Linked DNA regions of Homo sapiens. The protein of the gene in region 4 interacts with the protein of the main gene of each other region in a biochemical or structural test. Each region holds a gene or a part of one and is shown on either strand. Other genes may lie near its edges. The genes, in order: MTNR1A, ATP2A2, RASSF6, MPP7, HDAC7, SLCO1C1 and CLDN19.

The links.
Region 1: the proteins of MPP7 (region 4) and MTNR1A interact in a test that uses a peptide from one of them, tested with the Homo sapiens proteins (one large-scale study listed by IntAct).
Region 2: the proteins of MPP7 (region 4) and ATP2A2 interact in a test that uses a peptide from one of them, tested with the Homo sapiens proteins (one large-scale study listed by IntAct).
Region 3: the proteins of MPP7 (region 4) and RASSF6 interact in a test that uses a peptide from one of them, tested with the Homo sapiens proteins (one large-scale study listed by IntAct).
Region 5: the proteins of MPP7 (region 4) and HDAC7 interact in a test that uses a peptide from one of them, tested with the Homo sapiens proteins (one large-scale study listed by IntAct).
Region 6: the proteins of MPP7 (region 4) and SLCO1C1 interact in a test that uses a peptide from one of them, tested with the Homo sapiens proteins (one large-scale study listed by IntAct).
Region 7: the proteins of MPP7 (region 4) and CLDN19 interact in a test that uses a peptide from one of them, tested with the Homo sapiens proteins (one large-scale study listed by IntAct).

What each region holds. Positions count from the first base shown.
Region 1 is NC_000004.12:186,548,352-186,552,806, reverse strand, and holds part of MTNR1A (melatonin receptor type 1A), read left to right. Parts: intron 1-4,455.
Region 2 is NC_000012.12:110,349,096-110,352,224, reverse strand, and holds the end of ATP2A2 (sarcoplasmic/endoplasmic reticulum calcium ATPase 2), read right to left. Parts: 3' UTR 1,934-3,129; coding exon of another isoform or gene 1,920-1,933; 3' UTR 1,132-1,919; downstream 1-1,131.
Region 3 is NC_000004.12:73,613,645-73,618,099, forward strand, and holds part of RASSF6 (ras association domain-containing protein 6), read right to left. Parts: intron 2,293-4,455; coding exon of another isoform or gene 2,247-2,292; intron 1-2,246.
Region 4 is NC_000010.11:28,058,150-28,062,604, reverse strand, and holds part of MPP7 (MAGUK p55 subfamily member 7), read left to right. Parts: intron 1-2,861; coding exon 2,862-2,955; exon of another isoform or gene 2,956-3,089; intron 3,090-4,001; coding exon 4,002-4,110; intron 4,111-4,455. UniProt on the Homo sapiens protein: Acts as an important adapter that promotes epithelial cell polarity and tight junction formation via its interaction with DLG1. Involved in the assembly of protein complexes at sites of cell-cell contact.
Region 5 is NC_000012.12:47,788,187-47,792,641, reverse strand, and holds part of HDAC7 (histone deacetylase 7), read left to right. Parts: exon of another isoform or gene 1-637; coding exon 638-771; intron 772-935; coding exon 936-1,056; intron 1,057-1,333; coding exon 1,334-1,383; intron 1,384-2,721; coding exon 2,722-2,829; intron 2,830-3,063; coding exon 3,064-3,119; intron 3,120-3,293; coding exon 3,294-3,381; intron 3,382-4,455. UniProt on the Homo sapiens protein: Responsible for the deacetylation of lysine residues on the N-terminal part of the core histones (H2A, H2B, H3 and H4).
Region 6 is NC_000012.12:20,722,268-20,726,722, reverse strand, and holds part of SLCO1C1 (solute carrier organic anion transporter family member 1C1), read right to left. Parts: intron 3,634-4,455; coding exon 3,469-3,633; intron 1-3,468. UniProt on the Homo sapiens protein: Mediates the Na(+)-independent high affinity transport of organic anions such as the thyroid hormones L-thyroxine (T4), L-thyroxine sulfate (T4S), and 3,3',5'-triiodo-L-thyronine (reverse T3, rT3) at the plasma membrane.
Region 7 is NC_000001.11:42,737,174-42,742,326, forward strand, and holds the start of CLDN19 (claudin-19), read right to left. Parts: upstream 3,064-5,153; 5' UTR 2,891-3,063; coding exon 2,668-2,890; intron 1,413-2,667; coding exon 1,248-1,412; intron 1,141-1,247; coding exon 1,056-1,140; intron 1-1,055. UniProt on the Homo sapiens protein: Forms paracellular channels: coassembles with CLDN16 into tight junction strands with cation-selective channels through the strands, conveying epithelial permeability in a process known as paracellular tight junction permeability.

The DNA.
Region 1 (4,455 bases), on a different chromosome or scaffold from region 4:
TAAGGGACGATTCCCGCAATGGAACGCTAGGATTAGATCCTTGCTGTGCTCCTTCTGATTTCAGAAATCAGTGAAGCTAAATACCAAACTTCATTTTCCACATTTGTTGAATTGCAGGTAATACCCAACCGCTTAGCCTCATAAGAGTGTTGCAATGACTGTAGTGAAGTGGCGCATATGAGAATACTTTGAAAAGGATAAAACACGTAATACTGTGTTGGCTTGTTTGTTTTCTGGGTACACCTAACAAGGGCGTGCTCTGTTTGCTGGAAATCATTGCACTATAGACCTATGATTCGTGCATTTTTCTATATGTACATTATACTTAAATAAAACTTATTTTACAAAATATCAGGCAAGAATACAATACTATCTTGCCTATTCAAAATTCAATTATCTGGCAATCTAACTGAGGTAGAGTACAGCCAATAAATGGAAATTAGCAAAAATGACAGGCTCTCACCTACAGCGGATTTGTTCTAACTTAGAGTGCCACAAAACTGTGATACTGGTGTCTAGGTCCCTGTAGATTATGAGCAGGAAATTAGGAGGAAGATTGACACATTTAAAGAAATAGCACATAATAGCAAGCAGTATGGGTTGAAATAGACTCATTAAATGCAGATCTGAGAAACAGAACAAGCACAACCTTTTGTGCTTACATTGTGAAGATGTGAACAGCCCTGCTCACCATTCACGGCTCCTGAAAGCAGCACAGTGCAGCAACATATGTATTATCATCACCTGATTCATCAGCGAGAGATGTCATCATGAGTGGTGTGTTCTACTTAAGAAGACAGGGATATGATACATTTTAGAAAGATACCTGTCAAAAGCAGTTTATTATTATTATTATTTAATCTGTGTGCACAGTAGGGTAAACTTGTCAGTATATGTTTTTAAAAATGGTTTCCCAGAATGGCTCTATGGCTGGATGGCTGACTCTGTGTGAAGCCTCTCTTGCACTTGTTGCTTTCAGGTCTCTATAGAATGTTATATTTATTCATTCTGCATTACCACTCAGAGAGGATGCATAGAGTACGGAGTGAATGTGGACTTTGGGCCTCAGAGATCTGGTTCAAGTCTCGGATGTACCACGGCTGTTTAAGATGCCACTTTTCTTACAGGGATACTAGAAGGATAAACTTAGATTCTGCCTATCAGTCCACTTACCTACCCATCCACCCACCTATACGTCCAACCACCCATTCATCCATCCAGCCACCCATCGTCCGTCCATCCATCCATCTATCCATCCATCCACCTACCTACCCACCTATCTATCATTATGAGGTACAAATAATAGTATTATGATGTTAATGCTAGTACGCATCTGGTGATTAGTTCTTTTTAGATTGTTTTTATTTTTTAAGTGTATGTTTAAAAAAAAAAACAAGTAGACAATATGAACTGGAAAACAGTGAAATCAACCAGAAATGGAAGGTTTAGAATCTAATTCCCATTTGTGACATTATGCAAAATACACAAAATCTCCATTGTCTGAGTTTTCCCTTTTGTAACAACCATTATCTCTCTGCAGCAAGAAGGCCTGAGATTTAAAGACTGATTATTTCGATATTCAGCTGTTCTCTAATTTTAAGTGAATCAGCTCTAGAAGCTACAGTAGCTTCCTTGGGCAAGCAGGCTACCATTCAAAAACCTACGACGTAACTTGTACTGTACAGACTTGGAAAATGATTTCAAGCTAACCCCACTTCATGCGATCTCCAAGCCGAGAGGTTTCTTGTTGGCGCTGCTGTAGTTTCCCTCCTGTTGCTTTCCACAATATTTGAAATTACTGATTCAAGGCAATTTTTTACTTTAGAGACATTTTATTGATTTTTCCCCCTTGTATTCTTAGCTGTTGTTCAGTTTTCTATGACTTTCTATCTTGGTTTGTATAGTACATTGTTATGAACCCTAAGTTTTTACAAATATGTCAAAGTAATTCCCAGAATCCCCTGTAAATCTTATGACAGTAGTTTCAGACTCTCAAATACATGATTGAATTTGTCTGATCTTTCGTTCCTCCAGCTATTCATTTCGTAAGAAAGTATTTCTGGCAGGAATTTTCAGTGTTAAATTAATCACAGATAAGATAGAGCTTACTTTTGCTTGCCTTCAGCATCATTTTTCTCTTGGCAATTTTGGGAGTTAACCTAGGATAAAATAGTCCTAGATTAGACCTCCTTCTATTAATATTTACTGCCATTTGATGGTTCTGTTTTAAAAAGCATCTACACTGAAAACTATCATGCCTTGGAAGTCACTTTAAATCTCCACAGAGTCTTTGGAGCTCATTCTGCCCATTCTTCCTTAGCACCTTTTAAAAATAATCAACAGAATAACTGAAATGAATGGTAAGATCTTTACAAGGTGCCTTAAGCTTTCCCTTTTTTCTACATATTTGTAAGTTGCCTCGCTGACAGAAATACCCTTTCTTCTAAAAAGGAAACTCACATACTCCTTTAGAGTTTTCTAGTACCAAAAAGGCAATTAGTGGATTGTTGTTAAAGAAGCGTTTTTATGAATGCACAGAACTCTGCACGGTATCATTGGTGCCATCTCTGCCTCTTCATGAAGATGATCAGCAGCCTCACTTCTGCCCCTCTCAAATAATCAAGGTGACCAGGAACCTGAGCGCTGTATGTGATATCTCTGTGATTTTTAGTGCAGTTAAATAATGCTGCAGATAAGAAATAAACTGCTGGATTCTCTGGATGAAGTACTCAAACACTTGTCTTTCTACAGAGCTGTATACACTTTCGGCAATGCCATTGAAGGAATCAGTCTCAGAAGAAGAGACGGGAGAGAAAATGCATTTGCACGGTGCTGAATATTATTTAAGTTAATGGAGGTGAATTTGAGTTGTTAGGGTGCACGGTTTAAAAGCGTGCTCACTTGCTTTGATACTGAGTAGTTTTGGTGCTTATTGAGCTGAACATTTACCTGGATAAATACTTACTGCATTCCTAGAGTATAAGGCAGAATGTAAATGGTTGGTAAATTTTTGCAGGTTTGTCAAAATTCAAGGTCCTGTTCTAAGCGTGGGTCAAACGCGGCTCCGACTTTCAAAGAGATTACTTTCTATCGAGGCACTTTAGAAATGTGTGTTCTTCTTATTTTCAAACAAAGAGAAGACTTGGGGTACAAAAGTATGAAAATAGGAGCATATTTATACAGCAGAAAACTTTTTCAAGAGAAATGCGAAAGTTGGCTGGTAGATGGTAGCTGGAGCTTAAAGCAATCATGAGAATTTTTTAAAGTTGTTATCTTACGAGGAGAGAACAATGTAATAACTGGGAGATGTGAAAACTAGTTCACATGTGAAATAGCAGCAGATTGAGACGGAATTAGTGAGAGAATTTCAAAGAAACTGATCAGTGGTAGAGACACGGCATAACTATTAGTGAAGAACACACTGGCTTCAGGTCTTTCGAAGAAACGCCTGCTGGAGAACTAGCCTGCTAACTTACATTTATACTTGTTTTCTCAAATAGTTATTAAGTGGTGGATTATAAAAATGTGTAATCAGTAATTAGTATTTCCTCTTTGATGATTTTCTGAACATATTTAGGAATATGTTCTTGGAAGGGATATTGTGCTTTCATCCTTCCTGCATTCATTCCCTCCTCCTTTATTTAAATGCTTGCTGGATGCCTCCTATATCCATCTATAGGAGCTTAGGACACGATTTTGTTTCAAGAGAAAATTCTGGTTCACTCATTTTTATTTTAAGATGTGGTTTAAATTGCAATTTTTACTTTTAAGATTTTTTGCCAGTTAGTTTTCATTCCATTTTTTCCTTTTATTATTTACTTATCTTTTTTAGCTCCTTTCGTTGTTCCCTCTGAATTTGGAATACTTCCAACTGTTCTCATTTGTGTATATGTCTGTGTAGGTATCATATAGTCTTTTACCATGTACTTTTTTTAAAAGATTGTTTTACATATATAGTGTATATATATATATATATATATATATATATATATATATCTTTATAGATTAAGCATTCCTTATCTATGGAAGATTAGTGCTATTATAGGTCATTTTTTTTGGGATGTGTCCCTCTGAAACACATGGCCTCTGGAACCAGATGCCTGGAGTAAAACCCGGGCTTTGCCATCTCATGCGTGTGACATAGGGCAAGTGACCTAATTTGCTCAGTTTCCTCACTTGTTAATTTGGGACAATACTAATATTGTAAGGACTAAATGGCTTGCTGTATACTTAAAGTGCATTATGAATTAAATATAACATTCCCAGCAGCAGAATAAATTCCTTTTGTTAGTTAGTATTCTTGGTGTAGAGTTCTGATGTGTAAACATATTTTTATTTTTAAGGCAGAATGCAATATTTCACACTTACAGGTCTTTAAATACTCTGTAAGTACATAAAAATAGAGTCAAAGTTTTAACTTTTAAAAAGTTACTTTTATGAGAATATTATTTTATA
Region 2 (3,129 bases), on a different chromosome or scaffold from region 4:
GCCTCAGCCTCCTGAGTAGCTGGGACTACAGGCAACTGCCACCATGCCCAGCTAATTTTTTGTATTTTCGTTGTTGTTTTTTTTTTTTTTTTTTGAGACGGAGTCTTGCTCTGTCACCCAGGCTGGAGTGCAATGGTGCGATCTCGGCTCACTGCAAGCTCCGCCTCCCGGGTTCATGCCGTTCTCCTGCCTCAGCCTCCTGAGTAGCTGGGACTATAGGCACCCACCACCACGCCCGGCTAATTTTTTGAATTTTTAGTGGAGACGGGGTTTCACCATGTTAGCCAGGATGGTCTCAATCTCCTGACCTCATGATTCGCCCGCCTCGGCCTCCCAAAGTGCTGGGATTACAGGCGTGAGCCACCGCACCCGGCAATTTTTTTTAGTAGAGACGGGGTTTCATCGTGTTAGCCAGGATGGTCTCGATCTCCTACCTTGTGATCTGCCTGCCTCGGCCTCCCAAAGTGCTGGGATTGCAGGCGTGAGCCACCGTGCCTACCCAGAACTGATAGTTTTAAAAATTAGATTTATAGAATCATCCAGCTATCCTTGTATCCTGGTATTTTTTAAAGTGATAAAGAATCATCTTAGGGAATGTGCAAAACCAAAAACCCAATCCCAAACCCATCACTGCCAAATAAGCACTAAAGTAACCAGCAAATGAATTCCAACAGCTGCTTCAGTTCTGTTCACCTCTCCATCCCATACCTATCAACAACGGGGAATGTGGAAGTTTTGGATCTGAACAGCCTAAGAAACATCTCTCCATTGCTAGTCTCCAGATCTTTCCAGGCTGCTAACAATGGAGAGCGCGGAGTCTTGGCTTTCTTCACCACACTGACGAGTGAGGCCTTGTGTGTTTAAGACCCCACTGGTAACACACACTCAGCTTCCCCCATCCTTAAAGGGTAGGGAGCCAGGGTGGGCTTCACATGGGCGGACCTGCTGCCAGTCAGCCTGTCTACTGTGAAGTCGAGTCCAAGAGGTTCCTGTCCCCTCTAGTCACATGGCCACCCTGCCCAGACTGAGCCTCCCCTGCTTCCCTGTAGAGGGGCAGGCCCGGGTGCGGAGTGGAGGCCCTTGGTGCCCATCAGTCCCCCTCCCACAGAACAGTCACCACCACACTGAGAATTTATCATAGAATAGATTTATTTACCTGAAACCATGTCTGTGCGACGCTCATTGTTACCAGCACAGAAAGAAACAAACTGATCTCTATTTACAGTCTAAAGTCAAACATGCGCAGTGATAAATTGACATTTAGCATTTTATTAAGATAAATGCATCACAATATTTGTATTGCACCAACATCTGTCTACTGCTTCTGATTTCATTAAATAAGTTACATTTAATACAGTGCGAAATAGCTGTCTGCACACTCAGAAAATAACTGAAAATGAACTGGAGGCCTACATTTTAACCATTCAACACCTGTAGTGTTTTTAATGAATTTATAAATAAGCAAACTGTACAGGGCCAATTAAAAAGTAGCATGTTCCAATGTCACTGGAGAGGGATCTGGCTACTTACAACCGAAGGCATGCATTACAATTGAATACTGTACATTTATATAAGCTATGACATTTTGCAGAGAAATGTGGCGACTTGGCTGACGGCTTCCAAGTTCTTAGATAAGGTTACAGAGCCTCATTCCTCTTGCAGCAAAGAAACCAAACTTCTCTGGAGAGGCTTTCTGATTAAGCTAAATTGTACATCTGTAATCAGTATTTTGATTTAAAAGCTAACAACCCCATTGGTAATACACATTTCCTCCACATAACACAAAGTGAGTTGGGAAGTTTTTTACTTTTCTTTTTCCCCAACATCAGTCATGCACAGGGTTGGTAGATGTGTTGCTAAAAACGCACATGCACGCAACCGAACACCCTTACATTTCTGCAAAATGGTTTAGGAAGCGGTTACTCCAGTATTGCTGAAAAGGAAAGAGAGAGGAAATCAGCTTCATGAAATACAGAGAGGAAACGTTAGAATACCTATTTAAATAGATGAAGATCAACAGCGACAGATGAAAAGGAACATTCAGCTTGATCTTTTCAAGGTTTCAAGACCAGCATTTCTGATTTACTGTCCCTGAGGTGCCGCCCACACAGGGTAGCATCTAGAAGCACTGGCTCAGTGACACAGACTCCTCGTGTCGTCTGGCTACAGAATAAAGGCTCTGGAGGAAAACCCCATGAGGCAGACACAATCGTTGCAGCTGTGAAAGCAGCGAGACAGGCAAGAGGACAAGGTCTTGGTTAGTGGTGCAGAGGGTGAGGTTGATGGAGAAGTGAGCAGCCAGTAGCAGCACAGCCTTCCTGTCCCTGCCCTGTGGGCACCCGGCTTCTGGCTGCTCGCCTGCCTTGCCTAGCCCTGGAGAGGAAACTCCTCCGCATCATTCTCCTCAGTAAAGGAGGGTGAAGCCTACCCTTCTTGCTAACTGCAGCGGGTGTTTGGACAATTTGGTGGTTACAGTCACAGGGCAACTGCTGGCTCTGCTCACAGGCACTGCAGACGTGGTATGCTCTGGCCCTGGACAGTGGCTAGATGCTTGGTAGACACTGAGCTAATCTTGTGGTCTCAGGTCTTAGGTCTGCCCACCTCAGTCAGGGCTGAAGCTCCAGTCCGAGGGGATGTGGGAGCAGCTGTTGTGAGGGAAGTCGGCCAGATGCCCTGCTTGCCTGGGAGCTCACTGAGCTCAAGGGACAGCTTCCTCCAGAATGGATCATCTGCATTCTGCAGAGTGGTGTCCCAGTTAGGGTATGTATGATTGTTGGTCTTCTGGGCAAAGCTCAGAGAGGCCAAGGGAGGCACGGGGTGGCAACAAGCGACACTGATGGCTGGGCCTTCAGCCACCTGCCCATCAGGAAAGAATGTGGAAGTAAGTTTCAGGCAAGAGCTGCCTGACAGCAGGCACATTGCGGGGCTGGGCAGCTGCTGCCTCACTGTTAGGTGAGGGCCTGAGGCCAGGGATGTGCCAAGACCACGGTGCTGGACCTGGTCTTTATGGGTTGACCTGAGGAGGAGATGCTGAAGTGTTTTCACCCAGCAAAGCCTTCAGTGAAATGGAGCAAGTGGCCCTGCTCAAAACAGCAGTGGGCCTAACCCACTCCCAGCTGTCTGGACCAA
Region 3 (4,455 bases), on a different chromosome or scaffold from region 4:
AGAGTTCACTTCTCTCCTCATTTCTCGGCCTCTTAGCAACATTTGACAAGATTGATTTTCCTACCTTTTAAAACACTTTCTTCTTGATGCTTTTGAGACAAACCATGAATAACAATCACCTCACTCTATTTTCCTGCTATCTCACAGGCCTCAACACTAGTCTCCTTTGCTGATTCCTCCTTTGTATGATCACTAAATACTGGCTTGTTTGAGTGTCCATTCTCAGCCATCCTTTCTTCTCTATCTATACATTCTTCCAGGTAATCGAATCTGTCTCCATCCCATAATCTCTGTTGAGCTCCAGACGCATGTCACCACCTACCTAATCTCTACTTAGATGTGTACCAGGCATCTCGATATCTACATGGCTGAAAAAGAACCACTGACTTTCTCCCATGCTCTAAAATTTCCTCCTCCACAATTCTTTCCCATCTAGGCATCAAAACTAATATTTAGTCTCATTTTTTCCCTCTTTCATCATAAGCCAAATTCAATCCAAAAGTAAGTCCTATTCACTGTACCACTAACATATTCCAAATTCGAAAGCTTTGATTTCCACTGCTACTACCCTAAGCCAAGCCACCATCATCTTTTTCCTGGATTATTGCGTCAGCCTACTAGAGGGCCTCCCTCTGTTGTGGTCTGAATGTTTGTGTCCCCACAAAACCTAGATGTTGAAACTTAACCCCCAATGCAATAGTATTAACAGGTGAGGACTTTAGGAGGTGATTAGTTCATGATGGTGGAGACTTCATGAATGTGGTTAGTGCCCTTATAAAAGAGACCCCAGAAGCTGCCTGGACCCTTCCACCATGTCAGAGCATAGCAAAAAGACCATCTAAGAACCAGACAGCTTGCTTCCCTCACCAGACACTGGGGATATTTGGAACTGAAGAACCACTGATAGCAGCTTCTTATAATTACAAAGTGAAAATTGGCAGTGATGGACTGAAAAATCATTGCAGTAGCTTTCCAACTGGCTCACTCTTTATTTGCATTCATAAGAAATATCAAAGATATCATTAAAGAGGGCAAATAATTGCAATGTAGTTATAGTGACACACTGTTGATCTATGCTGAGGTAACTCATAGCCAGCTTCAGAAGACTTCAGAAGATGTGATGAAAGGGTTTCCAAGGCTCTTATATTATTTTCTGACTTTAGGAAGGAAGAAAGTTGAATATAATTTAATGTAAGAAAATAAAAACAGGATAAAATTTTCATTCATAGGCAGCACATAATATTTGAGTAGGAAATAATATTATTCATGTCTGATCTAAAAATTGGGTAAATAAAATATTCAAACAGTTTAAATACCTGAAAGGTAAGAACATGCTTTGGTAAAAGTCCCATTGTTAGTATTAACAGTGAAGTGAAATACAAAAGTTAGCCGGGTGTGGTGGAACACACTTTTAATCCCAGCTACCTGGGAGGCTGAGGCCCGAGAATCACTTAAACCTGGGAGATGGAGGTTGCAGTGAGCCAAGATTGTGTCCCTGCACTCCAGCCTGGGTGATAGAGTGTGACTCTGTCTCAAAAAAAAAAAAAAAAAAAGAGCAAAACAAATAAACAAACAAAAACAATGAAGTGAGGCATAGATCTATGAATTCAAATAGTTTTTCATCCTCATCTTCCCATTCCCATTCACCATGATTCATAGCAAACTAAAACCTGCTAGGGCCCTTGTGAAAATCTCCTAAATTATAAAGACTTGGTAGATATAAGCATCTGAGCAAATTTTCTCAAGGACTTAAGAGGAGAATAACAGAGAAGTCATGAATAGCAACGAGGGAGAGAATTTATGAAGAAAGAAAAAATTACAGTTCTAGAAGCCTGGAGGTCTTACTTGGGATGTTCAGTAATTTTGGTAGAACATAATAAACTACAACTTGAGGAGGAAGATGGTTGTTACAAATCTATGTAGGCCCTGGGGCCAGAGATTATTGACTTAGATTGTGTGTAAAATAAGATCATTATTTAATAAGTTTGGTTATTTACTTTTTCATTTTGTCCAGAAACAATGAAGCTGGAGAAACAGGGAATTAGATAGGTCAGCAATTAAGTCCTGGAGAAATCAACAGCACTAGAAGTATAGGAGAGGTAGAATTGGTCTGAACAAGCCAATGAGATCTGGATGGAGCCTGAGGAGGCAGTGTTGGGCAGCATTAGCGTTCCAGCAATGCTGGAACGTGGTTCACCTCCCCCTGCTCTGCATTCCTGCCTAGAGGTGGGCTTGCCTGGACTTACCAGTTGCCTTGTGACCAGAATGAGGCCAGAGGACAGGAAGTGAATTCTAGTACAAATTAAATCAAATGGGTCAGTCATTTAAAGTAACTTCCTGTTATCCAACCATGAGTTAATTAAATGGTTACATATCTAAAAGTGGAAAATTGGGTTCACTCGTTTGTAAATTCAACAAATATTTCACGAGTTCCTTCTCTGCACCTGCTACCGTGCTAGGCACAGAAAGTATAGCCTGTATCTATATCTATAGCCTCTTATTTCTGAGGCCACAAGGTGCACAAAGTGTCATAATGCTAATGATTTTACAAAGAACTAATATATATACATATATCTATATCTATCTATCTATCTATCTATCTATCTATCTATCTATCTATCTATACATATATATACAGGTGCTAACTTCCCTGTATTTCCCAGCCAAAGACAATTTCTCTTGCTTCTGAAATTTCACAGGAAATTTTCTGTAGCTTTCTAATTACTTACTGCTTTCTCTCTCTAACCATATTTTATTTTACTTAATTTGATTACTAGGTCCTTTAGGACAGAATTATTGCTATTTCATTTTTGTGTCTTCTAAAGTGAGTGAATATATGCAGGCATATAGATAAAACATACACAAAATATTGAATACATCCAACATACAGAGAGGTATATTATAATATTAATGGTAAAATTAAGAGCTAAGAGATTATGTGTGATAATTATTTCTTTTTTTATTTTGTATGTACTGTCTAAATCATAGACAAGGAATATATGTTACATCTCTCTCACCCACGTCCCCAGTAAAAGCTACTTAAAAAAAGAACAGAAAGTATCACACTAGAATAGCAAGTGTGTATTTCAATTATGAGATAAGAGTATGTTAAGGGCTGTACACACGGAGAGTCTTTTTAATAAAATATTGTTTCAGCTTGAAGAAGCAATAGAAAGTTACAATTATGTATTCATCTCCAAAACGAAACTGTTTTCTCAAAGTTATGACCTGGAACCTTGGAGTAGAGAAGAGCAGAGTTATATGCAATTACATCACTTCAAGAAAATGAGACAAAGCATCTATAATTCCATCCAGTATCTAGTTCTCTCAAAAAAGGAAAAGAGTTAACAGAGTGATGGTTTCTGGGAAACATTTGGCTCCATACTTTTTCTTAAAATGTGCTTTATTTGCAGAGACAGTAAAGGTCAAGAGTTGGCATATATACAAACTATCACTTAATTAAGTAATATTGGTTGCAGTCAGTGATTGTTGGTTTTGAGATAGAAATAATGTATTATAATCATTGAATCTAAGAGAGGACTAAGCAGAATATGAATCAAACACACTTCTATGTGAGCATGCCACTGCCCTCAGTTCAAGTGGAATCTAATTGGAAATGCCAAAACTTTACTGTTCTATTGCATATTTACATGGTACTAATGCCATGCATTTTATTCTGCTCAAGGTGCCCTCAGGGAGATAAAGAAAGCAGAAACGGTCAGAGAAGCAAATTTGTATTAAGGCACTTAAGGCATCTTGCCACCACTGGGTCTGGGAGGCGCTGCTCAGTCTGCCGACAGCATCTTCTGGAATTACTGGTGTGGTGGAACTCAAAAATTTTCTGCTTCACCTGAGCTTCCCAGTAGAAATTCTTAGGCTGACGTCACAAAGATCACGACTCATTTTTCCTGTTTGTATATTTGCTGCAAAAGAATCGACACTCTCTCCTCTTAAGCTCCTTTACTAGGCTCTAGGTGATGATGAAGTTTTCCTTTAAGTTAACATCCTTATTACTTAAATAGGAGACACTTCATGTTCTACTCCTGAAAGCAGTGGTATTAGTTAAGTTTGGTTGTTGAGATTATGTTATGAAAGTGATGAAATCACTATAATTTATCATTTTAAACATACAAATTAATTTTTGCAACAGAATAACTCTCTAACTGTAATGTGAAAGGAAAATATTCAGAATTCCTTTCTCAGAGGTTTTGTTTTCAAATGGCCTATACTTGAATATTTTAAAAATCTAAGCTTTTATATGAAGCCCATGTAACTCTAGTAACCGTGAATTCCCCACCTACATTGCAATCAATGAATCTATATAAGCAAATGGACTGTCAGCATTGGGTTTCTATCTCAGTTAAAAGTAAAGGATCCTTCTTATTTTAGGAAATTAAAACAAGAATCAGGTATAGAACTTTTAATTACATGCTTAAAAGACTTGTTACATACATG
Region 4 (4,455 bases):
TCTAATATTAAAGCCAACCTTTGGTGTGTGTGTGTGTGTGTGTGTGTGTGTGTGTGTGTGTGTGTGTGTGTGTTTACTATTATGGAAATGATTGAATTTAAGCTACTATTTTATTATTTGTTTTCTGTTTGTCTCTTCTGTATTTTATTGTATTTTTCTTCTTTTTCTGCCTTCTTTTGGATTATTTTAGTGTTTTTTAATTTCCATTTTAATCTACTTGTTGACTCTCTGGTGGTATCTCTGGATTAGCTTTTTACTGGTTGCTCTGAATATTAATGTATGCATATCTAACCATTCATGACCTGCTTGCAGTTTAACTTGGTGTCATTTCACATAAAATACAGAAACCTGGCAGCCATTTAAGACCCTTTCCCCCAGCCTAATCTTTTTGTTTTAGGTGTCAAATGTATTACATTTGCATACATTGAAAACTATCAGACAATATTATAACTTTTCTTTAAAATAGTCATATATATCTTAATGAACTTAACAGGAAAAAAGTAGACGTTTACATTTACACAATTATTTGTTCTTTCCTCATTCCTGAATATAAAAGTTTCCTTTTTATCATTTATCTTCAGCCTAAAAAACTTCCTTGAATATTTTTTTTGAACAGTCGGCTGTGAATTCTGTTAGTTTCTCTTCATCTGAGGAGGTCTTTATTTTGCCTTTATTCTTGAAACACATTTTGATTAAGTATTTTCCTTTAGTGCTTTAAAGATATTATTTCATTGATTTCTTATTTTTATGATTTATAATAAATCTGTGACAGTTTAAATCATTATTCACTTATGTGTTCAGTGTTTTTTCCTAGCTGCTTTGAGATTTTTTATTTATCTTTGGCTTTTAATAGTTTGATTATAATGTGTCTAGGCATAATTTTTCCCTTCTGAGTGTATCCTGTTTGGGATTTGCTGAGCTGCTGAAATTGGTAAGTTTATGTATTTCACCAAATTATAGAAGTTTGGGGCCTTTATTTCTTCAAACATATTTTTCTGCCCCAATCTCTTTTTTCCTCTCCTTCTAGTACTCCTATGACATATGTGTTTTCTCATAGGTCCCTGGAGTTCTATCTATATTTTTTAAATCTTGTTGTTGTTGTTGTTGTTTAGATTATATAATTTTATTGTTCTGTCTTCAAGTTCACTGGCTTTTCTTTCTGTCATTCTGTTATTGTGCCCATCTAGTGATTTGTTTCTGTTGGATATTTTTATTTTTCATTTCTACAATTTCTATTTGTTTTTTTCTTTATAGTTTCTGTTCTTCTGCTAAGAATTTATATTTTTGTTCAATTCAAGTATATTTTCTCTTACCTTTTCAAGCTTAGTTATGGTACCTGTTTGAAAGACTTATGTCTAATCTAACTTCCAGGTCATTCAGGGTTGCTATCTGTTATCTTTCCCCTTGAAAATTGGTGTTTTTTTTGTTTTGTTTTGTTTTTTTTTGTTTTTGGTTCTTTCATGTTGAATAATTTCAGATTGCATTTTGGACATTGTGAATATAATGTTGTATTAACACTAGGTCTTGTTACCATATTCGGGAGAATGTTGATGTTTTTATTTTAGCTGCCAGCTTCTTTTATCTCACCTTTGTTATATTGATTTGGGTCTGTTAGGATGCAAGGATTAGTCTAAGACTTGTGTGCATGGTTCAGATCTCAGCTCAGTTCTTTAAGCCTTTTCTTCATTGGCTTAGATATGTTTTGCGATACTCTTTTTCAGGGGTTAGGCTGAAACCTGTACATTCCACTCTCAGTTCATAAGGCCTTTGCCGTGCTGGTTTGAGTTTGAACTACATGTGTGTAGCACAGAGAGGATTCTTAGACTATTGTTGACTCATACACAGAAGTGAAGTATTTTCTTCTCCAGCTTTCTTCTCTCCTGGATTTCCTCCACACTTTACAGCCCACAAGGACTTTTTCTACCCCCCGTCCCAAGTTCTTTGCACCAGAACGTTAGGGCTTCTCTTGGCATTTTGCTGCAGATTCTACCATGCTGCTCTGCGAAGGATTCCCACCCTTGGGGCAAAGCTAAGAGGAAAATAGAGTTAAACTCCTCCCCGTGCAGTTTGACTCCCCTCTACAGTCTACCTGCTTTACTTATTTTCAAAGTGTTCGGGTAGTTTCTTGGCATCCATAGTTTTTAGTTGGGATCTGCAGGAAGGATGGCCTGTAGTGGGTTTACATTTGCCATGTCAGCACTGGAGTGCCTTGGGCTTTGTTCATGTTGTCGTTTTAATGAATCCTATATTTTCTGCTCCATTTTAGTTCGTTAATAAATAATTAGGCAAGATTACTGAAAGGTTAGAAGTTCAATAGTATTCTAAGATGATGCTATTTATGACTTTGCAAAGGAGGAATGAGTAGCACACAGAAGTATTTGGCTTCACTTGGCTGGTAAAACAAAACTTTGATGGCATACCCACTATGTCCCATGAGAAGAAGAGAGTCAAACAGTTTCAGAGTTTATCTAACAACTTAGTGGTTAATAGATTTGCTTTAATGAATGAAGATCAATAAAGATAATAAGCATATTATTTGCAAAAAAAAAAAAAAGGTTTTTTTCCTCAGGAGTTTAAATAGCACTCTTGTATCAGGTTAGAGAGCCTTCAAAATAGCAAATAATAGCAGAGACATACAATGCAATTAACTTTTTAACCCATCTTCAAATCAATATAATTTTAATAACAGTGGAAAATCTGGATTTATAACAGCTTACTGTATTTTATTAGCTAATTTGCTTTTTAAATACATTTTTAAATCCTGTTGAAAAAACTAATTAAATACCCTTGATTTCTTTTTTAGTATTTTCCTTAAGGTGGCTGATGTGGGCTTTTCTAAACTCCTTTTCATTAAATCATAGATACCACCAGAGCAAGAAGAAGCCAGGAGAGTGATGGTGTTGAATACATTTTCATTTCCAAGCATTTGTTTGAGACAGATGTACAAAATAACAAGTATGTGGACATTTTTGAGAATTTTCATGTGACTGTTTTTTATAAGCACATGCCTGTCCCGTTTTAGACAACTGAGAGTTCTCCATTTGAAGTGTATTTTAATTATCATAATAATATTTGAAACAGATGAAAAGGTAATAATTTGGTTGGTAATTATTGTTAATCTTCACCTCTAATTTTTTAGTAACCTGGATTTGCTTCATTTCTATAAAATGTGTAGACACTGCTTTGCAGAATGAGGGAAGGTTGCAAGTGTCTTATTCTGACCTCCTTCCAGCCCACTAATTGAATCTTAACATGTAATTTGGATAGAATTTTACTTCAAAAACCAACAACTATGTAGTATATCACTAGGTCCAGCGTCTGCTTCACACACCTGCATCTCATTCTCTCATTGGCTCTTCAAAAAATTGAAATGATGATAATTAACTTGCTGGTACCGTCTTCTCTAGCTAGCTCCAAGCCCACCCCAGTGCCCCCTGCCCAGGTTTTCCATCTGCTGAGGCACAAATATTTTAGGCTATCAGAAGCAATATGTGTTTTAATGCAGGATTGTGGGATTTTATTAAAACATCGAAATGCTTTTTTCGTGTTTGGCGCAGTGATTGTGTTTTTATAGCACATGATCGACTGCCCTGGCTCCATTAGCCACCACCCAGCGCCTCTAGTTCTGAAGCTGGGCTGGGTTACTCCGTAGCGTGCAATGAAATTCCAGTAGTTTCTATTGTTTGGCTTATTCACCATTTTATTGCATTGCATTAGTTCTGAAGAAAAAGGGGGTGATGGAAAACATTAGAGCCCTACTAGACTAAAGTACTTTTTTTCTGCTTAAGTGTAATTTAAGCAAGTGTTACTGATTTGAAAATGTATAATAAAAGATTTTTTAAAAACTGACATTTTGAAATACTTGGCTCTGTTTATATTATTAAACACAGTTTAAAAAAATTACGTGTTCAGCAGAAACGTCTTTTACCTATGAATTTTATCTTGCCACCTATAATTGTTTTAAATTCACAAATGATTCCAATGCATTTAATTTTTTACAGGTTTATTGAATATGGAGAATATAAAAACAACTACTACGGCACAAGTATAGACTCAGTTCGGTCTGTCCTTGCTAAAAACAAAGTTTGTTTGTTGGATGTTCAGCCTCATGTAAGTAAACAATGAGCTATTCAATACCCTTCTGACCCATGTCATCTACAGCACCTCATGTGAGCATTTCAGTATGAAATAATATGAAGTCAACTCACTTTTGGCATATATGTGGCTTTTCTGAGATGGCAAAAGCATTTAAATATAATTGGAGACATCTTTGGTGGAGAAAAAGAAAAGCCCATAATATTATTAGAAAGAGAAGTGGAGGAAGCTCCAAGACCTGTGTTTGTAACTCTTATTTATATTCAGTTTTTGTCAAGTAAAGCAACTCTTAGATGTTTCTACATATTCTGTATTTTTAAAAAATACATCACATTGTTACATGCATAATGCATTCTTATG
Region 5 (4,455 bases), on a different chromosome or scaffold from region 4:
GTCACATGGTGTGAGCATTTTGAGAGTCGTTGGTGTCCTAGACGCACAGAAATTGACCCTCCCACCCGCAATGAGCAGGACCCTCCTCTGAAGACTTCCCACGGGTCAGACTGAAATAGTCACTTCTCCAAAGCTGGATTTGTCTATCACATGGTCCAGTGTCATCGTGGGCTTCTTAGCTCCCGGTTTGGGGGTTTCCTAGGAATTCTTTTCCCTCCTGCTGCCCCTTGGTAGCCTCTCTGGGTTCATGACACGTGTGTGAGATGCTGTACGTTAGGCCTCATGCTTTGCTCTGAGCACTTGAGGGCCTGGTGCTGGGCCCTCGAGTCCTGGGCCACCCAGCAGTCGTGTCCGCATGTGGGAAGGCCGTGGCTCTGTGGCAGCCATGTTGGCTGGAGCTGTGTTGATGTGTTGGCTGCTGCCACCTGGGGAAGTGTCTGGGCGTGTGTGGACAGGTGTGAGGGGCTGGGGCTGGGGTAGGGGCAGGATGAAATGCAGGCCTGTGTGGGTGTGAGGGGTGTGTACCCGCCCGGCTCCATGTGGGTGCCTGCTGTGGCGGTGCTGGCGTGTTCTCTGCAGCCAAGGCCATGGGGCGTGAGGACTCCCTGGGTCCCCGCTCTGACCCTTGCTCCTGCAGGGCTGATCTATGACTCGGTCATGCTGAAGCACCAGTGCTCCTGCGGTGACAACAGCAGGCACCCGGAGCACGCCGGCCGCATCCAGAGCATCTGGTCCCGGCTGCAGGAGCGGGGGCTCCGGAGCCAGTGTGAGGTGAGGAGGCGCGGGTGGGGCCCGAGGAATGGGTGGAGGGAGGAGTCATGGGAGGGGAGGGGTGGGGGGCCCTGGGGCCCATGAGAGATGAGGGGCACATGGGGTGGTGGTGATGGGAGGGAAGGGGCGAGCATGAGCTCAGAGCTCTGTGGTCCCCTTTTCAGTGTCTCCGAGGCCGGAAGGCCTCCCTGGAAGAGCTGCAGTCGGTCCACTCTGAGCGGCACGTGCTCCTCTACGGCACCAACCCGCTCAGCCGCCTCAAACTGGACAACGGGAAGCTGGCAGGTAATGGCCTAGTGGCCCTGTCTCCCCATGCCAGCTTACCTCACCCAGCTCCCATGCACTCCTGTCTCGGCTCTGCCCGCCCAGCCAGCCTCCTCCTGCACCCTGGACGTCCCTACTCCAGCTTGCTGCCAAGCCCCTCCTCAGCCCACCTCCACCTCTCCCTTCCATATTTCTCTCCCCCAATACTCACCCGGCCCTGCTCTCTGGGCTCCCTGCTCCCTGTTGGGCCAAAGGCTGAGAGTATTCACGCTGACGTGGGCTGGGCCTCTCCCCGCAGGGCTCCTGGCACAGCGGATGTTTGTGATGCTGCCCTGTGGTGGGGTTGGGGTAAGTGTGCCCAGGGGTCTCAGGGGGGCGTTGCCAGGGCTCTCAGCTCTCCTCCCTGTGGTTCTCCCAGGCCCAGCCCCTGCAGAACCTCTGCTTGTTGTGGTTCTGCCAGACAGGGTGAGCCAGGGACTTCCTGAGGTGCCCCCTGCAGCAGGAAGCTCCTTTTGGACAGGCGTGTCTCGGACCCACAGTCTCCCCCGAATGCGGAGTCCAGCCTAAGCCTTCCCCTAGAAGGTGTCTGGTAGATGTTGAGTGAGGTTTCAGGAGCAGGGCCAAGGCTGGGGCTTAGGATCATCTCTCCCTTCAAAGACCCCCATGACTGGGCATTGGCCGCCAGGCTGCTCTGTCTGCTCTTAAGTGGCAAGTTGGGGTACCTCAGCCTGGTCCCCAGACCTTGGGCTGCCTGGTGTGACATCACGGTGGTGCTTCCGGTGTCCTTGGCGATCCCAGCACTCCCCACTCCGGGACATAGCCCCAAACTCCGCTCGCGAGCTTTGCTTCCTAAGTCCTCACCCCTTTGTGAAGGGAGCTTCCCGCTCCCTCCGGCTCAGCTCTCCTCGCCTAACACTATCCCTGCAGTAGTTTCTCAAGCAAGGTGTGTAGAGGCAGGGGATGGAGGCCTCATTCCGGAGGGAAAGTGGGAGCTGTAGCTGGTGGGGGACTTTGGGAGCCAGTCAGTGCCCTATTCACAACTTCCCATTTCTTGCCACTTTCTGGTTTTTCCAACTGTTGTTGCTTCTGTTTTCTCCTCCCTCCTCTCCCTCTCTGTCTTTCTCTCTCTCTCTCTTTCTCCAGCCTCTTGCGACTCTCTCTGCCTTCCTCGCCTCTCTTGGTCTGCCTCGCCCTCCCCATCTCCCCATCATGCCCCCCGGCCCCTCCCTAGCCTTGAGGCCCAGGGACTGGGTTTGGGGGGCCTCCCAGCCTGGGCTAGGGGCCCTGAGTGGAAGACAGTGGTGCAGACGGCCCCTCCAGCTCCGACCGTCCCGCAGGGCCTGAGCAGAGTCAGCTGGGGCTTAAAACCCCCTCCCGGCCCAAACCCCAAGTCCCGCCCAGGTAACGCCATGCCCCCTCCCCTGACCGGGGAGGCAGGCGTGATGCTGCCAGCAGAGTGCTGGCCAGATAATGGGCTGGTGCTGGGACTTAAGCTGGGAAAAAGTCATGCTGGGATTGGGGGACACAGGAGGCCTTGCCTTTGGGCGGTGGGGCACTGGGGAGGCAGCACTGTCTGCCCAGCTCCCTGCCCCTGGGGTCCTGGCCGTGGGGTGGGGACCACCCCCTTGGGCCCTGGCTCCTGTGTGAAGCCTTGGATGATGCGGGCCCTGACTCTGGCTCCCGCAGGTGGACACTGACACCATCTGGAATGAGCTTCATTCCTCCAATGCAGCCCGCTGGGCCGCTGGCAGTGTCACTGACCTCGCCTTCAAAGTGGCTTCTCGTGAGCTAAAGGTAGGAGGTTTGGGTTGAAGGTGGACACACCACAAAGGAGGAAGCAGAGTGGGGTAGTGGGGAATCCAGGCCCAGAACCCCAGGCATCGCATTCCTCTTAGAGATTGCTACAGGGTTTTGGAGGGGAAATTGAGGGCTCTGGGAACCAGGTTGAGATTGGAACTCTTGGGGTACGTTCATGCAGCTGTGGGTCAGAGCTGTCTGTTGATTGACAAGCATTCTTTCTTTTTCCAGAATGGTTTCGCTGTGGTGCGGCCCCCAGGACACCATGCAGATCATTCAACAGCCATGTAAGGCTAAGGGAAGACCTGGGTGGGATGAGGTGGGGGGCAAGCCCCCAGGAACTTCCTTCAGGGACATTCTCTCTTCTTCCCTGAGCTTTCTCAGGCTGGGCCAACCCAGGGGCCTGGGGAGGTGAGGGCATGTGGAGAGAATGGGCTGGCAGGACCTGTCTCTCCTTCCAGGGGCTTCTGCTTCTTCAACTCAGTGGCCATCGCCTGCCGGCAGCTGCAACAGCAGAGCAAGGCCAGCAAGATCCTCATTGTAGACTGGGTAGGTGCCTGTCCGTAGCACCCTCCAATTCGAGAGCCCTGGGGGAAAAGCCCTGAGCCTGATGTTAGAGATGCGGCTTCATGTCTTAGTTCTGCAGTAGCCTCTCTGAGCCTCAGTTTCCCCTTGTGTAAAATTTGGGTGAAGATAACACCCACATCACAGTTGGGAGGCCTAGAGGGGATGGCGTGTGGGAACGCATTCAGCCATCGCAAACCCCTGCAACGAGTAGGAGCTGTCATTTGAGTGTTGTCTTTTGACCTCTATTGGCTTCTTTTGGCAGATCTAGTAATTTCTGCATTTCCTGTACAGGTAGTGATGATAAGAATAATAGCAGATAACATCAGTACACCACTAATCACATCCAGACACTGATGGTTTTACACATGATGGATTTAATCCTGACTATAACCCACTTTACAGATGAAAGTGAGCACAGAGAGATTAAGTAACTCACACACAGTCATTCGTAAGTCATGAGATGGATTTGAACCCAGGCGGGTTAGCTCTAGAGTGCTTGCGTTTAACTGCTAAGCTATGTCCCTTCTGCACTGACAGCTGTGTAAGAGACATTTCTAAGCAGAAGTTGAGAGCGGTGGAGGACCTTTGCACACTTGAGTTCCCGCATGGTCCTGTGAGTCGAGTGTAGGGCCCAGCTCTCCCTACGAGGGATGGGGCTGGGCCTCGTGTACCTGCCCCTCTGTAACCGAGCTTGGTTTCTGATCTCCTCATAACTTCATGACTTTATGCAAGACAGAGTGGTTCCTGATATGTGTAACCCTGAACCCTTCCCTCTCCTTGCCACTAACCCCATGTCCACACAGTTACTCTCTCAGGTGGGCTGGCCTGAGATTGGGACACCTCCTCTCCTTCAGGATCTCATATTACAGCCAGCCCTGTCCAGCACAGAGAGGCCGAGGTTCAGAGCCGGGCAGTGGATTACGTGGGGCCACTCGACCGTGTGGCTTTAGGAACCCCAGGTTCCTGATCCCAGTCTAGGGTCCTGACCTCAGAATGGCCACTGACCTTGAAACCCTTCTAACCTGTCCTGGCCCCCATCTCTCTGCCTTCCCTAAT
Region 6 (4,455 bases), on a different chromosome or scaffold from region 4:
CCAAAATAAAACTTGAAAAATATAAATAAATAATAAATAAAAGACAAAAGAAAAAATGAAAATCTAGCTGCCTATCCAAATTTCTTTCATTAAAAATCTTTTTAAAATTCCACAAACTTTAAAAAGCAAAATCATTTCACAAATGCTTCCTAGCTCTTGGATTTAAATTTTATTGTCATTTATTTTCCTTTAATATTTTTCCACAAAGTTAAAGTAATTAACTTGAGAAAAAATGCTATCTCTAAACTTTAGAAAGAATGTGGCTAACATTTAAAAACATGTACAGGAAGACTAAGTTGTCGTTGTAACAGTTGGCCCTTGAACATGTCGGGAAATTTCTGTTTATTTACCCCTCCATGGTATGTCAAATGCCTTCTCTCAAAGAAGCAAAGGAAATGTGCTTCTTTGTATCTATCTCATATTTTATTGCAGGAAGATCATTATCCCATAGCCCAAGTTAAAAAAAAAAAATAAGAAAAAGAGAGGTTGAATAGAAGAAGAAAAGAAAGAGAGAAATAATATTTATTGAACGACAGATATACGCATTTACTATGCATTTTATCTGTATACTTTCATCTTTATTTCAACCTAGTGATATATTTATTTTCACCATCGTACAAATAATCAAAGTAAGGGTGAGAGGATATTGAATAATTGGCCCACTTACGCTTAGTCGGCTGCACCCCATACTTACTAATGTGAAACCAATATGATCTCAGGAACAATCCTAGCTATAACGATGTAAAATTGTTAGATACTATTACTTATCTCTCACAAAAGTATTTGAATTATCTGTAGATATGACATGTCAGAAACTTTGAAGAATAGAGTTTTAGGTAAATGCAAATTAAACCACCATGAAATACCACAACCATACCGCATAAGAATGGTTACAGTGAAAAGAATTGACAATTCCAAGTGTTGATAAGCATGTGGGGCAACTGGAATGCTCTTACGTTTCTAATAGGAGTATAAATTTGCACAACTTCCGTGTGTTTTGGCAATATCTACTCTATTTAAACACATATTCTCCCTCTGACTTAGCAACTGCACTTAGCAGTATAATATAATATATATTATTATATTATCTATTATAGTATTATAAATAACTATTAGTTAAAAGAAAACAACACAAATGTCCATTGCACTCCAGGGTATAACCATGAAAAATGAGCATAGTGGCCCACCAATGTACATGTGGAATGTTGTTTTCTGCTTTTAACTATTATAAATAATTTTATAATAGCATTATTATTATATATTATAGTATACATAATATACTATATATAATACCAGATGTTACTATATTATTATAGTATTACCATATATCATATATTATACTATATTATCTGTACTATATGTAATATACTATAAATTTTAATATAGCATATAATACTATCTTATAGTGTAATATGCTATAATATATTATAAATAATATAATATATATTATATTAATACATATTAAAATACATATTTTTATTTGTATTTTTTCTTTCTTTAACTATAATTATTTAAAATACTATTATAAATAATTATATGATTTATAATATAAATAATAATTATAAAAATTATTAATATAAAAAGTATTTTATATATTATATATGATAGTTATATATCATGTTGTATATATTATTTTATATAATTTATTATAATATATATAATATATAATTAATACATATTATATACATATTAATATATGTTAGATATTTTAAATATATGTTTTATAATGTAATTATTTATACTATCATAAATTTATAATATTACCTATAAATATACATATAAATACATAATGATTTATAATGCTATTATAAATAATTGTATGTATAATTATTTTCATAGTATATGAAATTATATATTTATAATATATATTATTATATTATCTATTATAGTATTATAAATAACTATTAGTTGAAAGCAGAAAACAACACAAATGTCCATGAACTATAAAATGAATAAACTGTGGTTTATTTATGTAATAAGATATGACATAGCATGAAAAAGAATGTACCACTGCTATGCACAATATAAAATAATCTCATAGATTTCACTTCAGTTGAAAAAAGCTAGACACAAAAGAGTATATAATATACTATTTAATTTATATGAAGTTCAAAAACAGGCAAGGCTGGTCTATGATAATATAGTTTAGTATAGTTATTAGCTTTGGGGAAAAGTTTTGACTGATAGGAGAGTTAAGCTTTCTGGGGAACTAAAATATTCTGTATGTTCTGGATGCTGGATGTGACACACACACACACACACACACACACATATATATATATATATATATATATATATATATATATATATACACACACACACACACACATTATATATATCAAAATTATCCATCTGAACTGTTTAAGGTCTGTAGACTTAACTGTTGATAAGTTATATCTCAATGTAGACATAAAAGTGAAATAAAATAAAGTCTCTCTTAAACTTTAAATCCTCATCTATTCATGTTAAAATCAATATAAAGCATTGATTAGCATGCATGGGGTGTTGGAGAAAAAAGCCACAAAATATTTCTTTAGGTCAGCCAATAAGTAATAAAATTAATTTAAATCAATTGATGTTAAAAGTAAAAATGTTCAGTAACGTAACCTTAACATCAAGAATTTTGGAGAAAAATCTTTTAAAACTGTCAATTATATTAGCATGTGCTATATGCCCATTACCCAAGATTATCATAGAAAAATTATATCTCCTAAAATACATTTGGCTGTTTTTTTCTCCTTCCAGGTCTCTTTCAGAGGTAGAAATATAGACTGATTTTTACAATACTAGAGAAAATTATTTTATACCACTGGAGTCTCCTATCATAAAGGAATATGTCCCAAGAAACAAATATGTTATGCCTTGAAACAGTAACATTAAATGACATGTTCATGGATTAAAGAAACGAATCTTGATTTTTAAAATATCTAGTTGCTTCCACAGTGGTGGTCATGTATTTGTAAGTTCTGGTTTCTCTTCTTTCATTTCTTCATACTTTTCTATCTTATTATTGACTGTGTTGCTAGAAACACAACCCTTTGAACTAACTCAGTTGCCAGGAGTCAGAAAAGTTTTTTGACCGCGAAAATACAAGTTTTGTTTTGGAATGAACATCTTTTAACCTATCTCATTGTGCATTTTATATAATCCTAGAAACTGTTCATGTAAAATGGCCACTGTTTTGAGGTTTCGGCTGCACTTAAAAGACAAATATCCAGTATTATTAACAAACTCCTCATAAAATGCATGTTTCATCTCTATGATATCACTTCAAGAACTGCTTGCTCTCTGGGTTACTTACCCACAGATGTGAATAATTCTTGCTACAACATTCTTGTTACTTTTTGAGCTCATCTAAAATGTCATAAATTACCTAAATCTTGGAAGAATCTTCTCGAAGATTCCCGAGTTAATCAGGTACCTCTAAGACAGTCCCTCTGAGAAAGCATGAAAGGCAGATGAGCATACCGATCACAAAGTTGGCCCTGGAGGATGACTGTCCATACTGCTGCTCAATGTACTTTGGTTTGTACGTCACCATGCCGAACAGAGAATTGAACTGAACAGTGCTTGTACATAAATATAGGAAGTATACTGGGTTTCCAAAAAGATTCTTCAGTGATGGAAGAAAATCTGTAAAACAAAAATAACATAGACTAATTAAAGTTGGTGTCACGCATGGAAGAAGAAGTAGCCGTGCTGGCAGGACTTACAGGGCTGGGGCCCATTGTCACACAGTTTGGGAGTAGTCACAGTGTGGTACACACATACACTATGTATATAGTAAGCCACTGGCATGCGTCAAGCCTGCGATCTGGCCAGGTTCGAATCCAGACATAGGCACTCATTTCTACAGACATGCAGTATAGATTATATTAAAGGTAGGAGTCAGACAAGAACAGATTCCTCTAACTGATGTGGGCAAAAGACGAAAAGGATGAGAATACTCCCTCATCATCTAGCTGGGAGCCACAGGCAGGACATAAAGACCTTCACTTTTCTTGTCTCTATTCCTCAAACTTAGCTTGTGGTCAAAGAGAAAGAAATATGAGAGTTATCTCCATTTAATATATGAATTTTAGTGTTAGAAATGAGCATTGGTGTTCTCCCTTTTTCCTATTATGTAGCCTACCAATTAGACATGTGAAGAATTTCTATAAATGTAAATATTGCTTGAAGGGACAAGAAGAGGGGGACCAATATCATGAGGGGCTGCTCATTTCCATGAAGGGGGTTCATTAGAACACTGGGTTTTTGCCTACAGAACACTCACCCCTTTGATCATTGGTGAGAGACATGCATTGATACACATCTCTCAAATGAATAGATCTTATCTGTTGAAAGGCTGCCAACCTTGAAGATTAAGCCTTTTATTTCCTGTATACACAGAATTACAGGAAGCAGCAATCCTGGGTAGAGACAATGGTAGGATCTAAACTGAGGAGGTGTGAGAGG
Region 7 (5,153 bases), on a different chromosome or scaffold from region 4:
CATGCCCACAGTCTTACAAGTCCTGGTTATCTCCTGAATATCAGCCTGCTTTCCACTGCTCCCTCCCTGTTGCCCCAAACTCTCTGCTCAGACCTTTGGGACAGCCGCCTTCCTGGTGTCACTCCCTCCCCACCATTCTGCACATCACAGCCAGAAGGACTGCCGCTGCCTCCACCCAAATGAGGAACAAAATCTTCCTGTGGTTGCAAGGCCCTCCACGATCTGCCCTTATTCTCAAGTTTCTTCCTGGCCCAGAATAACTGCTGCCTCCTGCAGGAAGTCATCTCAGCCCTGCTGCCACCAGCAGAAATGAAAACAGCTCAGGCTTGCTGGGTACTGTCCAGGGCCCGGGCACGGTGCCACACCCTCACCTGCATCCTGCTGGATCCTGACAACCATGTGTGAACTGGTGCTCAGGTTCTAGCTCCATTTCACAGAGGAGGAAACTAGGCACAGAAAGATTAAGTAACTTGCCCAGGTGACACAGTGCATGCAAAGCTGGGATTGATTGATCGTTTGATTTTTTTGAGACAAAATCTCACTCTGTCACCCAGACTGGAGTGCAGTGGCGCAATCTCGGCTCATTGCAACTTTTGCCTCCCGGGTTCAAGCTATTCTCCTGCCTCTGCCTCCCGAGTAGCTGAGATTACAGGCGCCCGCCACCATGCCCAGATATTTTTTGTATTTTTAATAGAGACGGGGTTTCACCATGTTGGCCAGGCTGGTCTTGAACTCCTGACCTCAGGTGATCCACCCATCTTGGCTTCCCAAAGTGCTGGGATTACAGGCGTGAGCCACTGCACCCAGCCAGAGCTGGGATTGAAACCCAGAGCCAGGGCACTTAGGTCCTTAGAGAGTCCTTGCTGCACCTGGGTGCCCATCACAGGCCTCCCGCCCCTATGGAGGGCCCCACCACACTCCTCCTGGCGCCCCCCTTTAAAGCTTCTTGGACAGCAGCTGGATCCTGTCCCCACTTCCCCCGCCAGGTGATCCAGTGGACAAAGGTCAGTGGCCCCAGAGGAGGTAAAGCAAAAGACCCAAGCCCTGGCACCCACCTGGCATTGACAGGTGTGCTTGGGTTGAAGAACTCCTGGGTCACCAGGGTGGCATACCACGAGACAGCAGTCAAAGTGCAGAGGCCTAAAGACAAAGCAGAGGGGCGCTCAGCTCTGCTCTGGCCCCCCGAGGCCACTGGGGCTGGGGCTGCCTGCCATGGTTGTGATTGTGCAGGAGTGAGGGGCACTCACCTGCCAGGATGAAGAGGGCTCCCCCGGCGATGGCAACACGGCCCTTGGCAATGGGGTTGCTGTCTCCCACCCGCGTACACTTCATGCCAACTACGCTGAGGACCATGGCCACGAAGCCCAGGAGCACGGCCACCACCATCAGGGCCCGCGCTGATTGGATGTGACCTAGGGTGGGCGGGATGACACTGAGTCGGGCTGGCGGGGATGGGGGTTGGGTCGGTGCCTGGGGTCGGTGGAAGGAGCCCAGCTTGAGAGGGGCTTGAGCAGGAGCTGGCCTGGGGGGTCAGACCACCTTCTGGCAGGTGCAGGATAGTGAGGAGTGACAGCCCGGGCATGAGGACAGGGTGTGGGGGTGAGAGTCCCCTTCACTGTCAACGCCATTCTCCACTCGCCCTTGCAGGCTTTTCCGGTAGTATGATTCACTCTGCTGTTGCTTTCTGGCCTGGGGACTCCCTCTTGGGCTTGGCCCATCCTCCCAAGCAGCTGAGGGCAGCTCCAGGGTCCCCTCAGGTTTGGTAGGTGGAAGAGCTGGGGGTATCTGAGGCCCAGCTCAACTCAGCCTGAGCCCCGCAGCAACCCCTCCCCAGCAGCCATTCAGACAACAGTCACTTTCCCCTCTGCCCATGGCAGCTGGAAGCTTGCCTCTTCACGGGTGCATGGGTCCATCCTGGGCCCTGGGGGGTGCTCAGGAGACCTGGGTCCCTCAGCGAGGCTAGATGACCTGCCTGAACTGACCTGCCTGAACTGGCACAATGGGGCTGGTTGAAGGCCGCTCTGCTCCCAGCTCCCATGGGGAGCAGATTGTCCCTGGGGGCTCCTGGGCAGATTGCAGGTGGATCACCTCCACCCCAGAGTTAGAACTTCGGCGGTGCCTGTCAGGCTCATCTCCACACCCCAGAAGGAGAGGGACTGCATGCAGACACACCTGTCTGTGCATGCATGTGCACGTGTGTGCGTGTGCATGCGTGTTTGCATGCATGTGCATGCACCCATATGCTGGCACACAGGCCTGGGAGCAGGACTAGGGAGCAGGTGTGCATCATACAGTGTGTGTCTGTCTACTGACTGTGGGGAGAAGTGGATGAAGGGTCTTAACTGAGTCTTTCAGAGTGCCACAGGTATTAGTATTCCCCTTTAGAGATGAGAACATCACAATGGGAAGAGGTTTGGTGACTAGTTCAAAGTTATAGTGACAGAGCAGGAATCTGGACCCACAGCCGCCAGACCCTAGAGCCCTCCCCTCCCACAGGGCAGCAGGCTGGCCTGGACCGTCAATGGGCACAGGGCAGTAGTGGGGGAATTGTAGAGCGGAGGCTGGAGGTTGGAGCCCAGCGCAGATAGCAGACTGTGAGGAAAACTTGCTCCAGACTCCCCTGCTGTTCCCACCTCCCATCTCCCACCCCGCCGGCCTGGGGCCTACCGTCCAGGGCGAGCAGCGAGTCGTAGAGCTTGCACTGCACTTGCCCAGTGCTCTGGGAGGCGCAGGACATCCAGAGCCCTTCATAGAGGCCCACGGCAGTGATGATGGCGTCGCCTGCGTAGGAAGACTGCTTCCACTGTGGCAGGGCTGTGCTAGCAATGATGCCCACCCAGCCACCCAGGGCCAAGAAGTAGCCCAGGAGCTGGAGGCCTGAGTTGGCCATGGCCCAGGAGAGAGGACCGAGGGTCCCAGGACTCAGAGCTGGGCCAGGGTGCCAGCAGGGGCTTTGGTCATGGCCAGGTGGGAGGAGCAGCTGGGCAGGGGGAGCAGCGAGAAGGAGGGTCAGAGGCAGAGAAGGAGAGGTGGTGCGGCGGCAGCGGCTGGAGCAAAGGCAGTGGCTCTGGACTCCAGAATGCAGGGGGAGGCCCAGGGGCTGGAAAAGGCCAGGGCCCGCCCACAGCAGCCGCCTAAGCCAGAGCAGGGTCCCCAGCAAAGCTCATGCCCAGCCCCCTGGGGGCGGAGGGCCGGCCCATGGCCCAGGTGGTGTCCCTGCCCCGCCCCGTTCCGCAGGGATAGGGAAGGGAGGGGCTGAGAGGAATGACCCAGCTGCCCTCTGGGCCTTTCCCCACAGGGAAACCCCTTTAGGAACCTGATTCGGGTGTCCTAAAATTCGGATAATCCCTAACCCAAACACCAGCCCTGGGAGGATGGACTTTGCTCTTGCAAGGCTGATCTAACCCTTGGGGTTTTCTGCCCTTTGACTTTAGGACAGAAGGGAAAGGAATGCCAGTTTGCAGCGGGTAAAACTAGAGTTAGATGTCAAGGATAACTTTTTGGCAGGGGCTCTGAAGCTGGATGTGGGGAGGCTGAGCTAGCGGTGGGGTGTTGGGAAGAGGGGTCATGGGTACCTGGGAGCTGTGTGTGCCAAAAATCAGGGAGGCCAGACCAGGAAATATGTACTGTGGGGTCTTTTTGAGATCTGAGGGGGACAGAAAAGGGGCCCTATCGAGGCTGGGCCAGCGCTGGCTGCCGGCCAGCAAGGGGCCTGGTGGGGAGCTGGGGAGACAGCCCCAACCTTCTGGCATCAGCCTGAAGGAAGGCGGATTGCTCAGCCCCTTAATCCCCTTGCTGGCTGGCTTAGTAGCTCCTGCTGGGACTGGAACACTGGGCCCTGGCCCCCAACTCTAGAGCAGCCTGGCGCGGAGCAGTGGCCTCTGCACATTCCCGGGGTTCAGGCTGCCCGCTCCGAGCACCCCCACCTCCCTCTTCTCTCTCCCAGTCTCTCTTGGTCTTCAGGAGTAGGGGAATGTTTAACTCTCTTCCACCTCATTAGCAATCCCCTCACGTTCAAGTGGGCCCCACTGCAGCGTGGGTGCAGAAGGAATGTCACAACCCTGCTTCCACTCCTGCCAGCCCCCCGCCGCCCCCTCCGTCCCCAACAGCCCACCCACCCTTCCTGGACTGCACTGGGGGAAGGCAGGGTCCTGCTGCAGACCCCTGCTGGCTTCCTCCCCCACAGCCCCAACCCCCCTCTGAAGGGACAAGTCCCCAGCCCGCTCTTGCATTCTTCACGTGGCTATGCAAACGAGAGGGTGCCAGGCGCTGAGCAGACAATGGCAGCCCTGTGTGCCCGCCCAGGGCGTAGGCCTCTGGTATGGCCTGCAGCTCTGGCCAGAGATGGGGGAGTGGTCTGCCATCTGAGGGTCAAGGGTGGGCACTGCTTGACCTGTGGTGGTGCACACTGGGACCCTCAGGCTCTCTGTGCTGGGAGGGTCAGAGCCACGTGGATCCGAGCACACACAGACCTGCTTCCTGGACGACCTGTGGGTCCCAAGACCAAATGGGGTCTAGGACAGTGGCAGAGAAGTAAGTCCTGAGCTCAGATTCTTCTACCACAATGACAAGACAGTAGGATTGAGGGGAGCCTCCTCCATCCTACTGGGGCCGCAATGGGCACCCTGTGACCAGTGCATTAATTTAAGCATGTGGGCCACTGTTGCAGGCAGCAGGCCTCCTAACAGTAAGGAGACCACGGCAGAGGGAGGTAATAGACCCCCAGCCAGGAAACAGCAGGAAGGGCTTTCCGCTTGAAACTGTGTGGTGCTGGCCCCTGTGGTCTCTCTCCCACACTCCTCCCTTTTTGAGGGAGGCACCAGGTCCAGATTGAAGGGGGCTGCGGGCAGTGACAAGATGCTCCCCAGGGGTGACCTGAATGACTGTGGTGCCTCAGGGTCCTCACTCTAAATGGGAGGTTTGCTTCATGGAGTTGTGGTGGTCCGTTAAAGTAAGCGATGTCTGGGGAGGGCAGGGGCCTGGTGCTGGGTAGCTGCTCCGCATATGCTCCTCCAAAGGCAAAGTCCTCCTTCTCTCCACGCTGGGCCTTGGCCCCTTTTCCCCGCCATCTGCAGGCGCTCTCTCTGTAGGGAAGATCCAGGGGTCATTCTGGTTTCAGGGGGACCTGGGTCAGGAGCCCAGAGGCCAGTCAG